Linked DNA regions of Homo sapiens. The protein of the gene in region 1 purifies or fractionates together with the protein of each later gene. This does not show direct contact. Each region holds a gene or a part of one and is shown on either strand. Other genes may lie near its edges.

The links.
Region 2: the proteins of SMU1 (region 1) and DYRK3 purify together in Homo sapiens (affinity purification with mass spectrometry, with the first as the bait; one study listed by BioGRID). This does not show direct contact.

The regions. Positions count from the first base shown.
Region 1 is NC_000009.12:33,069,877-33,073,697, reverse strand, and holds part of SMU1 (WD40 repeat-containing protein SMU1), read left to right. Parts: coding exon 1-102; intron 103-1,805; coding exon 1,806-1,958; intron 1,959-3,821. UniProt on the Homo sapiens protein: Involved in pre-mRNA splicing as a component of the spliceosome. Regulates alternative splicing of the HSPG2 pre-mRNA. Required for normal accumulation of IK.
Region 2 is NC_000001.11:206,648,803-206,652,623, forward strand, and holds part of DYRK3 (dual specificity tyrosine-phosphorylation-regulated kinase 3), read left to right. Parts: coding exon 1-163; 3' UTR 164-3,821. UniProt on the Homo sapiens protein: Dual-specificity protein kinase that promotes disassembly of several types of membraneless organelles during mitosis, such as stress granules, nuclear speckles and pericentriolar material.

The DNA.
Region 1 (3,821 bases):
AGTTTTGTGGCTGACATTAACAGTGGCCATTGGGATACTGTGTTGCAGGCTATACAGTCTCTGAAATTGCCAGACAAAACCCTCATTGACCTCTATGAACAGGTAAGAGTGGTGGTGATGCTGATCCCCATGGGTTGGTTCGTTGTGGGCCAGCTCCCCAACTAAAAAGCGTCAGTGAGCATTCCTTCAAGCACGGTAGGGCTGCATCAGCCCATACAACAATGGCAAGGCTTGACATTGTATTTTTTCTCCCTTCTTGGAAAATCCAGGATTTCCCAAATTAAAATTCTTTCCTTTTTTTGAGACTGGATCTTGTTCTGTTACCCACTCTGGAGTGCAGTGGCAAGATCACAGCTTGCTGCATCCTCCATTTCCAGGATCAATCCTTCCTCCTGCCTCAGCCTCCTGAGTAGCTAGGAACACAGGCACGCACCACCACGCCTGCCTAATTTTTGCATTTTTCTGTAGAGACAGGATCTCACCATAATACCCAGGGTGGTCTCAAACTCCTGGGCTCAAGCAGTTCGCCAGCCTTGACTTTCCAAAGGGCTGGGATTACAGGCACGAGAGAGCCTCAACTTTCTAATCACATAGTTAGTCTTTCTGATAACTAGCTCCTACCTATCCTGAGCCATTTCCTTTGCACAAACCCAGGTGTGATTCAAGGGGCCCAGGAGTAACAAAGATACCCCTATCACTGGTCAAATTCCAAGAAGCTCCAAGCCAAGAACCTAGGACAAAGATCAGACAAATTTGTGATTATAAAACAGCAGAGTAGACTTTCTGGAAATAAGATTGTAATTTGAAGTAAAAGTAGTGAAATTGGTTTTTGGTTTTTGTTTACGGGTTTTTTTTTTTGTTTTTTTTTTGAGACAGAGTCTCACTGTGTTACCCAGGCTGGAGTGCAGTGGTGCGATCTCTGCTCACTGCAACCTCCATCTCCGGGGTTCAAGCGATTCTCCTGCCTCAGCCTCCCGAGTAGCTGGGATTACAGGCGTGCATCACCACGCCCAGCTAAGTTTTGTGTTTAGTAGAGACGGGGTTTCACCACATTGGCCAGGCTGGTCTCCAACTCCTGACCTCAAGTGATCCACCTGCCTCAGCCTCCCAAATGCTGGGATTACAGGTGTGAGCTGCCGTGTCTGGGCAGTTTGTTTCTTTACAATCCGTATGAGTTCAATAATTCCCAAAGAAAATTTTGGTAACTGGAGAAAGGTTTCTCTGGAGCCCATGGGTATATTCCCATCTTTAGCTTTCTTTGGCATCTACATTCTGAGCAAGAAGCCTGAGAGGAGGGGAGATTGGTAGATAAAAATGAAGGATAGAGTTTGAAGGATTGAAATTATTATTTATTTATTTATTGAGACAGATCTCGCTCTGTCGCCCAGGCCAGAGTACAGTAGCATGAGCTTGGCTCACTGCACTCTCCGCCTCTCGGGTTCAAGCAATTCTCCTGCCTCAGCCTCCCAAGTAGCTGGAATTACAGGCATATACCACCACACCCAGCTAATTTTTTTTGTATTTTTAGTAGAGAGTCTGTTTCACCACGTTGGCCAGGCTGGTTTCGAACTGCTGACCTCAAGTGATCCGCCCATCTTGGCCTCCCACAGTGTTAGGATTATAGGCATGAGCCACCAAGCCCACCAAGTCCACCTGAAATTGCTAGTGAAAATGGAAAGGGGCACTTCCTGGTATTGGAAATCCTTTGACAGGCCATATCTGTGTTAGATATTTTACCGAAAAATATTAATAAGACGGTGTGTTGAAACATCTGGGGTTTTTTTTGTTTTTTTTTAATTGTCCAGGTTGTTCTGGAATTGATAGAGCTCCGTGAATTGGGTGCTGCCAGGTCACTTTTGAGACAGACTGATCCCATGATCATGTTAAAACAAACACAGCCAGAGCGATATATTCATCTGGAGAACCTTTTGGCCAGGTCTTACTTTGATCCTCGTGAGGTATGACTGTGGTAATGAAAAGGAACTTTTTGTTAACTTTGGAAATGAAATAACATGATCTTTTTTTTTTTTTTTTACCATTTTATTGTATACTCTTTGTGATTTTGATTTAATTTTTGAGAATGATGCTTCTCTGTTTATATATGTTGGCTGAAATTTGCGTATGTTAAAGAGAATAATTTTGTTCAGTTTTCTGATTATTTGAGTCTTCTATACACCTCAGTTTAGAGGATTGCGTGTTGGTTAGTAAAAAAAGCAGAACATTTTATTCTGATGTCATTTCCACATTAGCCCTCCCCGAAGTGCTGCCTGACTGCTGGTATGTTCACTGATCATTTGTGTGTCTTGCCCCTAACAATTGTAGTTTCCTTCTAGCCTTTTTAGTCCCTAGAAGCTTTTGTTTCTTCGCGGATTATGCTTACCAGTAGAGCATGATGATAGTCTTTTATTCTTCCAAAACGTTATTATCTGTATAGTTTCATTCTTCCTAAACCTTATTATCTGTATGGTTTCATTCTTCCTGCCCACCCCCCCAGCCTTTTACTAGAGGTTTGTCAAAATAGGAGGAAAAAGGATTAAAAAAAATTTTTTATGGGTACATAGTAGGTGTATATATTTATGGGGTACATGAGATATTTTGATATAGGCATGCAGTGCATAATGAGGGTAAATGGAGTATCCATCACCTCAAGCATGTATCCTTTGTGTTACAAACAATTCAATTCTTTCAGTTATTTTAAAATGTATAATTATTATTGGCTATAGTCACCCTGTTGTGCTATCAAATACTATTTCTTATTTATTCTTTATATTTTTTGTATCTATTAACCATCCCCACTTTCCTTCTTACCCCCGCCACCTCCACCCTTCCCAGCCTCTGACAACCATCCTTCTACTCTCTATCTCCATGTTTTAATTTTTAGTTCCTGCAAATAAATGAGAACATGCAAAGTCTGTCTTTCTGTGCCTGGCTTATTTCGCTTACCATAATGAGCTCTAGTTACATGCATGTTGTTGCAAATGACAGGATTTCATTCTTTTATATGTCCAGCTAGTACACCATTGTGTACATGTACCTCATTTTCTTTATTTATCTGTTAATGGTCACTTATCGTTGCTTCCAAATCTTGCCTATTGTGAACACTGCTGTAATAAACATGGGAGTGCAGATATCTCTTTGATATACTGATTTCCTTTTGGGTGTGTACCTAGCAGTGGGATTGCTGGATCATATGGTACCTCCATGTTTAATTTTTTGAGGAATCTCCAAACTATTCTCCATAGTGGTTGTACTAATTTACATTCCCACTAATAGTGTACGAGGGTTCCTTTTTCTCCACTTACTCACCAGCATTTGTTATTTCCTGTCTTTTTGTATAAAAGCCATTTTAACTGGAGTGAGATGATATCTCATTGTAGTTTGATTTGCATTTCTCTAATGATCAGTTGTGTTGAGCACCTTTAAATAAACCTGTTTGCCTTGTGTGTGTCTTTTTTTGAGAAATGTCTATTCAGATCTTTCACCCATTTTTAACATTGGATTATCAGATTTTTTTCCCGTAGAGTTGTTTGAGCTCCTTATATATTCTGGGTTTTGTTGTTGTTGTTGTTGTTGTTTTTGAGACAGAGCTCTGTTACCCAGGCTGGAGTGCAGTGGCGTGATCTCGGCTCACTGCAGCCTCCGCTTCCTGGGTCCAAGTAATTCTCGTGCCTCAGCCACCAAGTAGCTGGGATTACTGGTGTGTGCCACCACACTCAGCTAATTTTTGAGTTTTCAGTAGAGATGGGGTTTCGCCATGTTGGCCAGGTTGGTCTCGAAGTCCTGGCCTCAAGCAGTCCACCCGCCTCGGCCTCCCAAAGTGC
Region 2 (3,821 bases), on another chromosome or scaffold:
GGTGTCAGGGAAACGGGTAGTTAATCCTGCAAGTGCTTTCCAGGGATTGGGTTCTAAGCTGCCTCCAGTTGTTGGAATAGCCAATAAGCTTAAAGCTAACTTAATGTCAGAAACCAATGGTAGTATACCCCTATGCAGTGTATTGCCAAAACTGATTAGCTAGTGGACAGAGATATGCCCAGAGATGCATATGTGTATATTTTTATGATCTTACAAACCTGCAAATGGAAAAAATGCAAGCCCATTGGTGGATGTTTTTGTTAGAGTAGACTTTTTTTAAACAAGACAAAACATTTTTATATGATTATAAAAGAATTCTTCAAGGGCTAATTACCTAACCAGCTTGTATTGGCCATCTGGAATATGCATTAAATGACTTTTTATAGGTCAATGCATCTTTGTTATTATCGTCAGATGTATTTCAACTGATGTATTATACTATTGGTTTAAATCTCTTTCTCTCAAGATAGAAGGTGTAGCAAAAGTATCCCAACTACTCCTCGCTTCTAGTGTCCCTCGGCATCTGTTCTGGAGGGGTAATTTGGGATGTGGTGTTAGTTGTGGCTGAGAGCCAGTGCTAGGTCCCTTGCCCCACTAGGCCATTCTCTAGGCTCATTCTAGGTGAAAGAGCTCACAGCAGACTGTGGGGTGGGGGAGCACCAGGAAGCTGTTGGTGACCTGGACAACTGGTGTCCCTGGTTTTCAGTGACTCGCTCCTCTTCCCTTCAGTTCTCTGATGTTTGGTGTTATTATTTTATGTTGTTATTTTGCCTCTGATTTGTTTCCTAGTCACTCAAAGCATTTTACAGAAGCCTTACCACTTTACTAAATAACCCTGTAAGGTACTGATTTAAAAACTGAGTCATATGCATCCCTCCTCCTTTCCTCTCCCATGCCCAAGGAAGATAAAACAGCTTCTCTGCCACAATTGACCCAGAGTGGTAAAGATAGAGAATCAGCATGAAAACTGCAGTTCCCCAGCTTTGTGGTACTCCACGGACCAGCCTCCTTGCTGCATTTTCATAGAATCTCTTCCTTATAAAAGTAATCACTCTCGGATAAACCTTACTACAGTTTAAAAATGCTTCCCTCTTCTCTTTACAGCTACCTGCCACTTCAATGTGCCACATTTTTCCCCCCACTTTCACGTTAAGCTTAATGCTATTCCCTAGATCTGAGTGAACTTCAGTTAGAAGAAGAAAACTAAAAATCCAGAAACTGGTGATAATCAAGTTTTCCCTTTTTATGTTTCTTAATTTTATTCTCTTCAACAGCTTTTCTTTTTCTCTGCTAAGATTTAAACAGTGAGGGCTGATAATAAAACTAATTGTTAAGCCAGTGTCCTACTTACAAGGGTGGAGACGGGACAGAAGCTAACTCACTGCTACTGGGTTTTGTTTGTTGTTTCCTGTCCCTTGCTCTATTTCTGTCCTCTTCCAGAACAAAAGTATGCTCAAGTTCTATCCTAAATGTGTGCTCTTGGCTGGGTATTAGTGGCTCATGCCTGTAATCCCAGCACTTTGGGAGGCTGAGGTGGGTGGATTCCTTGAGCCCAGGAGTTCAAGACCAGCCTGGGCAACATGGTGAAACCCTGCCTCTACAAAAAATACAAAAATTAGCCAGGCCTAGTGGCACATGCCTGTAATCCCAGCTACTTGGGAGGCTGAGGTGGGAGGATCACTTGAGCTGAGATCATGCCACTGCACTCCAGCCTAGGCAACAGAGTGAGACTCTGTCTAAAAAACAAACCAAAAAAAGTGTGTTCTTTAAAGTAGAATATTTGCTTTTTACAATATAGTTCTCAGAATGATCCAGTTCCATTTATTATTCTAGAATGTGGTGCAAACTCAATGACATTGGAAGAGACTCTTTTTGTTGGGCAGTGTAGGAACAAGAAAAGAAAATAAAAATGCCATGAGTATATTATTTAAGGAACTTTTGTTTTATCCAAAAGTAGTCATGATTGCTGTAGCATAGGCTGTGAAAAATGAGAGAGTGCAAATCTCTCTCATTTAAATGTCCACAGTGGCTTTAGTCTCCCAAGTACAAGGGCCAGATGGCAGAGAACAGCTTAAACTGAGCCTTCAGCCTCATTAATAGGAGGAAGTCTTGGTACTTTTGGTGACTAAGAAACTGGATTATTTAAAACCTTAATTATCTCCTTTACTCCTGGTTTACAGAAGGCAATAAATATACAACTCCTTTAGATCCCTCTAACTCCTGCTGAATTTTCTTTCTTTTTTTCTAAGTCTGCATCCTATCTCTTGATTCCATTGCCTGAAGAAGCTGTGTGAAATTAGTCTGGTTATTGGTTTTCTTGTCTGATAGTGGCATCTTGATCTCTTCAGATGTCACACTAAATGCTGCTCATAACCCATCCTCCTCTTCTTTATTCATCACTGCCTTCTTCAAGGGAGGTCTTGAAACTGCCTCATCTACCTCATGATCTGCTAGTCGAGATAGTGACTCTTTGGAAGTTGGTAGTCCAATGTCTGCTTCCCCGCATTAACCACATTGCGTAGGTTTGGGAATTTTGCAGGTGCTAAATCATCATGGCCAGGAAGATGAAACACCTTGAGAAATGGGAACATCTCTTCACTGTGTTCTTGGATCAGCCTTCTTTCAACTACCAAGAAATGGATGATTTCTCTGCCAACTCCAGGAAGTAGTACAGCATGATTGAATCCTTCTTCAGTGAATCTTTTCATTGTAACTTAGGGTGTAAAAGCTCATATCTACTCAAAAAACTCAAATCTACTCTTTCAGTAGATATGAGCTTACATTGACTTATGAATGGTTTTCCTGTAGGCCCAACAGTGTCATGACCCTCCAGTTGAAACAAAGCATGAGTTATTTTTATATCGAGTCCTTGAACTGCTAGCCAGGTAGATGTTTCCTTGAAGTCCAGAGCAGGATCCAAGTCAGATGAAGGAGGTGGCACACCTGGCTTAACTGCAGATCAGGGAGCATTGAACCTCTACAATTTGCTGCATTGGATTTCTGCATGGGTTTCTCACTGAATAGTAAATTAGAGAAAATGCTACTTTTACTATTTTGCATTTTATATCAACATTAGCAGCCTGTTCCCACTCAGGTGCTGTCCAAGGCACATGTTTCCTTGGGATGTTTGGACAGAATGATCTGGCTTGATGTATTTCTTGGGCTCTGGTACCACATCATAGAGTTGGTTAAATGTAGCCAGCAGCAGTGTCAAGACAGCTGACACTGTCTTCCAAGAGTGAATGCATTGGCCTTTGGAACTGCTGCTAAAGCCATGTGTGGGGTGGCGAGCACATCTTTAGGTGGCAGCAAGGCTATATCTGATTGACACAGATCTGAAGTCTCTAACACCATATTGCTGTTGTCCTGAATTTTCTAACTTGGAGAAATTTAAGGATCTCCTGCATTATCTAGGCAGAGCATATGTTGAGGTTGTTTTGCCAGTTGTTATCAGTGTTGAAGAACTGCTCCTGTAAGCAAACTGTTAAAAGCATTACTACCCCATATGCATCTGATGTACACTGTGTTTTGGTGTTTGTGTTTTTAGTGAGAGTTCTAGCCAGTACTGTGCCTGAACTTGGGAGAGAAAGGGGCCTGTGGCTGAGGTTGGTGCGTGCTCTATTTCTGTGTATCGAATGGACTACAAGGTTACTGAAACTGGGCTAAGGGAAAGTGTATAGACAACTCATTACACTGTAGACAGATTTTAGAAAGCTACAGGAAGGCAAATGGATGTTTCTGCCTCAATTTGGCAACCGAGAGAGTGATGCAGAGCAGAGTCATTGAAGTTGGCATACCTGTCTTCTGCAGGCCAATTCAAG